Linked DNA regions of Homo sapiens. The protein of the gene in region 1 interacts with the protein of each later gene in a biochemical or structural test. Each region holds a gene or a part of one and is shown on either strand. Other genes may lie near its edges.

Region 1 (3,819 bases):
AGGTAGGGGCTTGGGAAGTGCTGATTGGTCAGTTTGGAGATGGAATTATAAGGGGTCAGAGTTAGGTTTTCTTAATGTCTTCTGTTCCTAGGTGCCATGGCAGAACCAGTTGGCCCAGATTACCAGTCTGGATGGTGTCAGCTGATCCATCTAGTGCAGGGTTTGCAAAATATCTCAAGCACTGTTCTTAGGTTTTACAATAATCATGTTATTGCCAGGAGCAATTTGGGGAGGTTCAGACTCTTGGAGCCAGAGGCTTCATGACCCCCACATTGTAATTTCTAATCTTGTAGCTAGTTTGGAAGTCCTGCAAAGGCAGACTGGACCCCGGCAAGAAGGAGGGGTCTTTTTGTGAAACGGCGGTTACCAGTTTTGTTTCAGAGTCAAACCGTGAACCGAATTCCTTCCCAAAGTTAATTCGGCCTATGCCCAGGAATGAACCAGGGCAGCTTAAGGGTTAGAAGCAAGATAGGGTCGGTTAGGTCTGATTTCTTTCACGGTCATAATTTTGCAAAGTTGGTTTCATAATGACTTTTGGACTAGTTCTTCAGGAAGGGAAGGGAAGAGAAAGAATACTTTTTAATACAGCTGGGCACGTTGGCTCACGTCTGTTAATCCCAGCACTTTGGGAGGCCGAGGCAGGCAGATCACGAGGTCAAGAGATCCAGACCATCCTGGCCAACATGGTGAAAGCCCGTCTCTACTAAAAATACAAAAATTAGCTGGGCATGGTGGTGCACGCCTGTAGTCCCAGCTACTTGGGAGGCTGAGGCAGGAAAATCGTTTGAATCCGGGAGGCGGAGGTTGCAGTGAGCCGAGGTCGCACCACTGTGCTCCAGCCTGGCAACAGAGCGAGACTCTGTCTCAAAAAAAAGAAAGAACACTTGTAATACTTTCTATTTGAAGAGCATAACCACATAAGATTTCAGTTGAAATTTCATATTTTCATATTTTCTATCTATCTTTTGCATATTTGGACAGTTTCTCTAAGTTGAAATTAGGGACTGTATTCTACTTTCCTCACTGAACATTTAATCAATTTTCTTTCATTTCCTATAGTTGTTATAATTGTCTGTAACTGGACCTCTAGGTTAGTTTGCCTGTTGCTTCCTTAATATTAATTATCAGGTTGAACTAATGAACATTTAGTTACTTAGTTCCCTATAAAGCCAACATTGCATTATAGTTCTAAAGTTGGACACTTGTTTTTACCTTTTTTGCTGTGATTAAAAAAAAAATTGGCTTATAGCAGTTTGCTTGTATTAATTTCTTCCTTAGGGTACATTCTTAAGAAGTGGAAGTCCTAGGACAAAGGTCTTTGTGCTTTTTGCCATATTTTTTTTTTCCAAATGAGTTGTATGAATTTATAGTACCACCACTAATCACCAATTTTTTAACAGCTTTATTGGCATATAATTCACAATTCTCATTTAAAATGTACAATTTATTGATTTTTAGTGTATTGGTAGAGTAGTGCATGCATCACCACAATTTTAGAATGCTTTTATTATTCTAAAAAGAAACCACATACCTCTTAGCTGTTGCCCCCAAAACCTCCATCCCAGCCATCCCTCAACAACCACTAATCTATTTTCTGTCTCTGTAGATTTGCCTGTTCTGGACATTTCATATAAATGGAAATCTACCTTTTGACTTATGAATAATGCTGCTGTGCACATTTATGTACAAATTTTGTGCGGACATATGGTTTAATTTCTCTTAGGTACATACCTAGTGATCATACTCCCCATTTGAGGTAATGCCAGGCTGTTTTCCAAAGCTGCTGTGTACCACTTTACATAGCCACTAGCAGTGTCTTCTAACACTTATTTGTCTTTTTGATTATAGCCATGCTAGGGGGTGTAAACTCATTGTGGTTTTGATTTACATTTTCTTGTTGACTAATGATGTTGAGTATCTTTTTTTTTTTTTTTTTTGAGACAGGGTCTCACTCTGTCGCCCAGGCTGGAGTGGAGTGGCGTGATCCTGGCTTACTGCAGTCTGGACCTCCTGGGCTTAAACGATCTTCTCACCTCAGCCTCCCAAGTAGCTGGGACCACAGGCATACGCCATTATGCCCGGCTAATACTTTGTAATTTTTGTAGAGATGGGGTTTTGCCTGGTTGCCTAGGCTAGTCTCGAACTCATGGGCTCAAGTGTTCCTCCCACCTCAGCTTCCCAAAGTGCTGGGATTATAGGCGAGAGCCACCGTGCCTGACCTTGACTGTCTTTTCATGGTGCTTCTTGGCCATTTGTATATCTTCTTTGGAGAAATGTCTATTCAGATCCTTTGCCTATTTTTTTTTTTTTTTTTTGGAGACAAAGTCTCCTTCTTGTTGCCCAGGCTGGAGAGTGCAGTGGCATTGATCTCGGCTCACTGCAACCTCCGCCTCCCGGGTTCAGGTGATTCTCCTGCCTCAGCCTCCTGAGTAGCTGGGATTACAGGTGCCCGCCACCACATCCGGCTAATTTTTGTATTTTTAGTAGAGATGGGGTTTCACCGTGTTGGCCAGGCTGGTCGCGAACTTCTGACCTCAGGCAATCCGTCCGCTTTGGCCTCCCAAAGTGCTGGGATTACAGGTGTAAGCCACTGCACCCAGCCCCTTTGCCTATTTTCTAATTTGGGTTATTTGTCTTAATTTATTGAGTCGTAATAGTGCCCTAGTTTTATTTTACTTTTGTCACTGTGTTATGTTTTTAAATACTTGGAACTATGTTCTTACTGGTACATAACTGACAGCTATACACAAAGCAGCTTAAACCAACACCCATTTATTTGCTCCACTGTTCTGTACATTAGAGCTGTAGTTAGGGCTCAAGTGGCTTCTCTGCTTAAAATCTTAAAAGGCTGAGAGGAAAATGTCAGGAAGGCTGGGCTCTTACCTGGAGGCTCTGCAGAAGAATCCACCTCCACGCTCATTCAAGTTATTGGCTGAATTTAGTTCCTTGTGATTGTTGGACTGACATCCAGTTTCCTTATTGGCTGTCAGCAGGAGGCTGTTAGGGGGTCTTTCTGCTCTTAGAGGCTGGTTGTGATTTTTCTTTTTTGGCCCCCTCTAGCTTAGAGCCAGCAATAACACATTGAGTCCCCTTTGCATTTTGAATCTCTCTGACTTCCTCTTCTGCAATCAGCCAGAGGAAACTGCTTTAAAAGGGGCTCATATGATTAGACTAGGACCATCCAGATAATCTTTTATATGCTCAGCTGTACCATATATCATAATCATGGGCATGATATCTTATGGAATTCACAGATGCTAGGCATTAGGGTGTGGGATCTTGGAGGCCATTTTGAGAATTACGCCTGCCACAACTGCTTTTGTAGTTATTAAATGATACTCCACAGTTTCTTTCATTTGAATGGTTAGCTACCATTTCCCATGTCTGTGTGTTTTTTTTTAATTATTATTATACTTTAAGTTCTGGAGTACATGTGCAGAACATGCAGGTTTGTTACATAGATATACACGTGCCACGGTGGTTTGCTGCACCCATCAACCTGTCATCTACATTAGGTATTTCTCCTAATGCTATTCCTCCCCTAGCCCCCCAACTCCCGACAGGCACCAGCGTGTGAGGTTCCCCTCCCGGTGTCCATGTGTTCTCATTGTTCAACTCTCGCTTATGAGTGAGAACATGCGGTGTCTGGTTTTCTGTTCTTGTGTTAGTTTGCTGAGAATGATGGTTTCCAGCTTCATCCATGTCCCTGCAAAGGACATGAACTCATCCCTTTTTATGGCTGCATAGTATTCCATGGTGCATATGTGCCATGTTTTCTTTCTTTAGTCTATCATTGATGGGCATTTGGGTTGGTTCCAA
Region 2 (2,954 bases), on another chromosome or scaffold:
GTGTCCCTGGGCAACTGAGCAGCCTCCTGAATGCTCCTTTTGCACTTGTTTTTCTCTTCCAGCTGCAGAGCCCTTGCTCCGTGAGCAAAGCCTGGGTGCCCAAGCAGCCACCGCAGCAGCAGAGTACAACCTGCAGAGAAGCTGATCACCGGGCAGAGATAGAGCGAGCATGTGTGTGTGTGTGCGCGTGTGCAGAGGAGGGAGTGGTGTGCCTGTTTGTGTGTGCATGCATCTGTTGACACTCATGATTCTGAATGTTGCCTGGGCTGGGGGAGTACCTGTAGCACGCCAGTGCTGTTTCCCGGCCTCCAGACACAAGGCTCGAGGTTATGGCAGTGACTTTCAGCTGAGACCTGTTCCTGCAAGCCAGCTGCCTTGTCTGAACAGAACGTAGTGGTAGGACCCTAGCTGGGATTCTGGCATCTGCCTCCCTAGACCTCCTTCCCTCCCTCCTCACGTCAGGCTGTGGAGCAGGAGCACAGCAGTTCTGGCTGTTGTCCAAAGCATGGGATTCTGGAGGCAGCCAGAGCCCTGCTGAGTTCCTGCTTTCTGACCTGGAGGCTGAGCAGGCCGGAGTGGATGGATGCTGTCCAGACGTAGCCACCTGGCCTCTGTTTCTTATTTTAAAATTCTCTGCTACTGGGCTCAGTCCCAGGCCCTTCCTTGGGCTTCTGGGACTGAGCATGAGGCCATAGACAGATCTAAAAAGTTTCCACCACCCTACAGAAGTACACACAGATACCTGACTGGTGTGGGGTATGCCTGGTACTGTAATAGGAGCCTAAGACAGCACACCTACCTTTTCAGGATTTAGAACCTAAAATTAGAAAGAGAATCCCAGCTGTCATTGTTCCTTCCCCAGAAGCTAAGAGCCAGCCTCAGAGCCTACCCAGGAGCTGTGAAGGGGCAAGGGTCAAACTGACTCACTCTACCAGGAGGAGACCAGGTTGCAGTGGCGTAAGGCCCCCTGGTTTCTCTGGCCACACTCCAAGGCACCACAGTGCTGCCAGTGAGGACAGCTGACACCCAGCCAGGGAAACCATTCTAGTCTTTATTCTGTTGGCTTCCAGGGCCTGTCCTGGACTTGTCAGCATCCAGACTGCCATGTCAGCTATCCCAGTAGCTGAGCTCCAAGGACTCAGGCAGAGGGACTCAGGGATGGGGACTGCCAGGGGCAGTTGGCAAAAGTCCAAGTAGAGATTACACCCAGAACACCATTCCTTCCAGGAGCAGTAGGTGGGAGGTTTGACCCAGAGAAGCCAATCCTTGCATTCCAGGAGTGGCCTGTGCCTCCCACCTCTTCCTTCCCACTGCCAAAGGCCTGTGTTGAGAAAGATGTCATGCAAAAGGACGACGGTGGCCAACTAAAGCAAGTCTTCCTTCCACCCTGTGGCCTGCACTTGAGCCACAAAGTGTGTGTGTGTGTGTGCGTGTGTGGTACGTGTGTGTGTGTGTGGCTATGAGGCTGATTCCTGTTTGGATTTTTGTCCTCACGTGTATCATTAAGCTGGCCTTTGGGCCTTTTCCTTTCTACCTCCCCTGTGACCTTTCCTAGCCTCAGATCTGTTAATTCTTTTGGCCCCAGCCCTGTCCCTCACTGTCCTCTGTCCTTGGACCAGAACCCTGGGGTCAGACCCATCTCCTGTAGCTGTCCATCACACTGACAGGCTTCTTCCTGAGATATCCTCAGGTTTTCTCAGCCAGAGAGCTGCCTTTAGAGTCCAACTGTTGTACGTATGTCACCTTCACTAGAAATGTCCCATCATCGTGGGAGGGGAGCAGGGCACAGGGGATGGTGTGCATTCAGAGCATTGGGTTGGGGGCTTCCCTGTTCCCTCAGCCCCAGTCGAGAGGAAAGAGAATCGGGCCACTGCCAGAAAGAGAGTCAAGCAAACCTGGAAGGGCAAATCTGAGAGTGGGAAGGCCAAAGGCCGAGGCCCAGATTTAGTATTCACTAGCAGCGCCTTCGGGTAGCAGGATGATTCCTTTTCCTGCCTGTCTGCTGCTGGCTCTCTTCCCTAAGGTACAGGTTGGCAGGACCACCTCCGCCTACTTCTCCACCATCCCTAGCATGTCAGCCCGTTCCCAGATCAACCTGCCAGTGGAGTCAGGCAGTGCACTCCTGGAGCCAAGAGGGAAGGGCAGGGTAGAGAGGGTATGTCCAGTAGCCTGGAGCTCCATGGTGGCTTCATGCCTCCCTTCTCCCAGCTCAGGTGGCCCTGAGGGCTCCCTCGGAACAGTGCCTCAAATCCTGACCCAAGGGCCAGCATGGGGAAGAGATGGTTGCAGGCAAAATGCACTTTATAGAGATTTTCTATTGCTGGGAAGGTGTGTTTCTCCCACAATTTGTTTGTGAATATTCACTTGTTTTATAAATGTCTGACCTGTCTTGAGTAAGTTTGTGCTGTCGTCAATCTTGTGGGAGGCCTGGGAACCAGGGTTTTGGTAAGCCTGAGCCTGAATGAAGCTGTCGGCCACCCCATCTTGGTTCTGTGGGAGTCAGGAGCCTCCTATTCCTCCTTAGGAAGGGGGAGCAGCCAGAGCAGACTGGAGCAGCTTGGTCAAGAGTTGGTCCAGAGCTTGGTCAAGAGTTGGGGGTCAATTGGCCAAAATAGTACAGAGCACTCTGGCCCAGAGTGAGGGTCCTAAGTGCCATCCTGCAGTGCCACCCAGCCTTGCAGCCCACTTAAACCCCCTCCCAGGCTGGGGGTCAGTCAGTGCAGGGCCTGCTCCACGCCCTCAATCCATCCTTTAATTCAATGCAGCCACTTAAGCTGCAGCCTGTGGTGAGGAGGGGATGCAGGCTCTCTGGCTGTGACTAGGTGGTTGAGATCTGCCCACAGCCAAGCCTAGGGCGCCTGGATGCTGGCTTTGTCTCCTGGCCAGAGAATGGCCCCTCTCTGTGCAGTGTGCCCTGCTTCCATGCTAGGGGATGCTAGCCTTGGACTGAAAGC

Evidence for each region.
Region 2: the proteins of FBXL3 (region 1) and CRY2 form a complex in vitro, tested with the Homo sapiens proteins (2 studies listed by BioGRID, with this or other methods).

Annotation. Positions count from the first base shown.
Region 1 is NC_000013.11:77,009,841-77,013,659, reverse strand, and holds part of FBXL3 (F-box/LRR-repeat protein 3), read left to right. Parts: intron 1-3,819. UniProt on the Homo sapiens protein: Substrate-recognition component of the SCF(FBXL3) E3 ubiquitin ligase complex involved in circadian rhythm function. Plays a key role in the maintenance of both the speed and the robustness of the circadian clock oscillation.
Region 2 is NC_000011.10:45,880,852-45,883,805, forward strand, and holds the end of CRY2 (cryptochrome-2), read left to right. Parts: intron 1-62; 3' UTR 63-2,393; downstream 2,394-2,954. UniProt on the Homo sapiens protein: Transcriptional repressor which forms a core component of the circadian clock.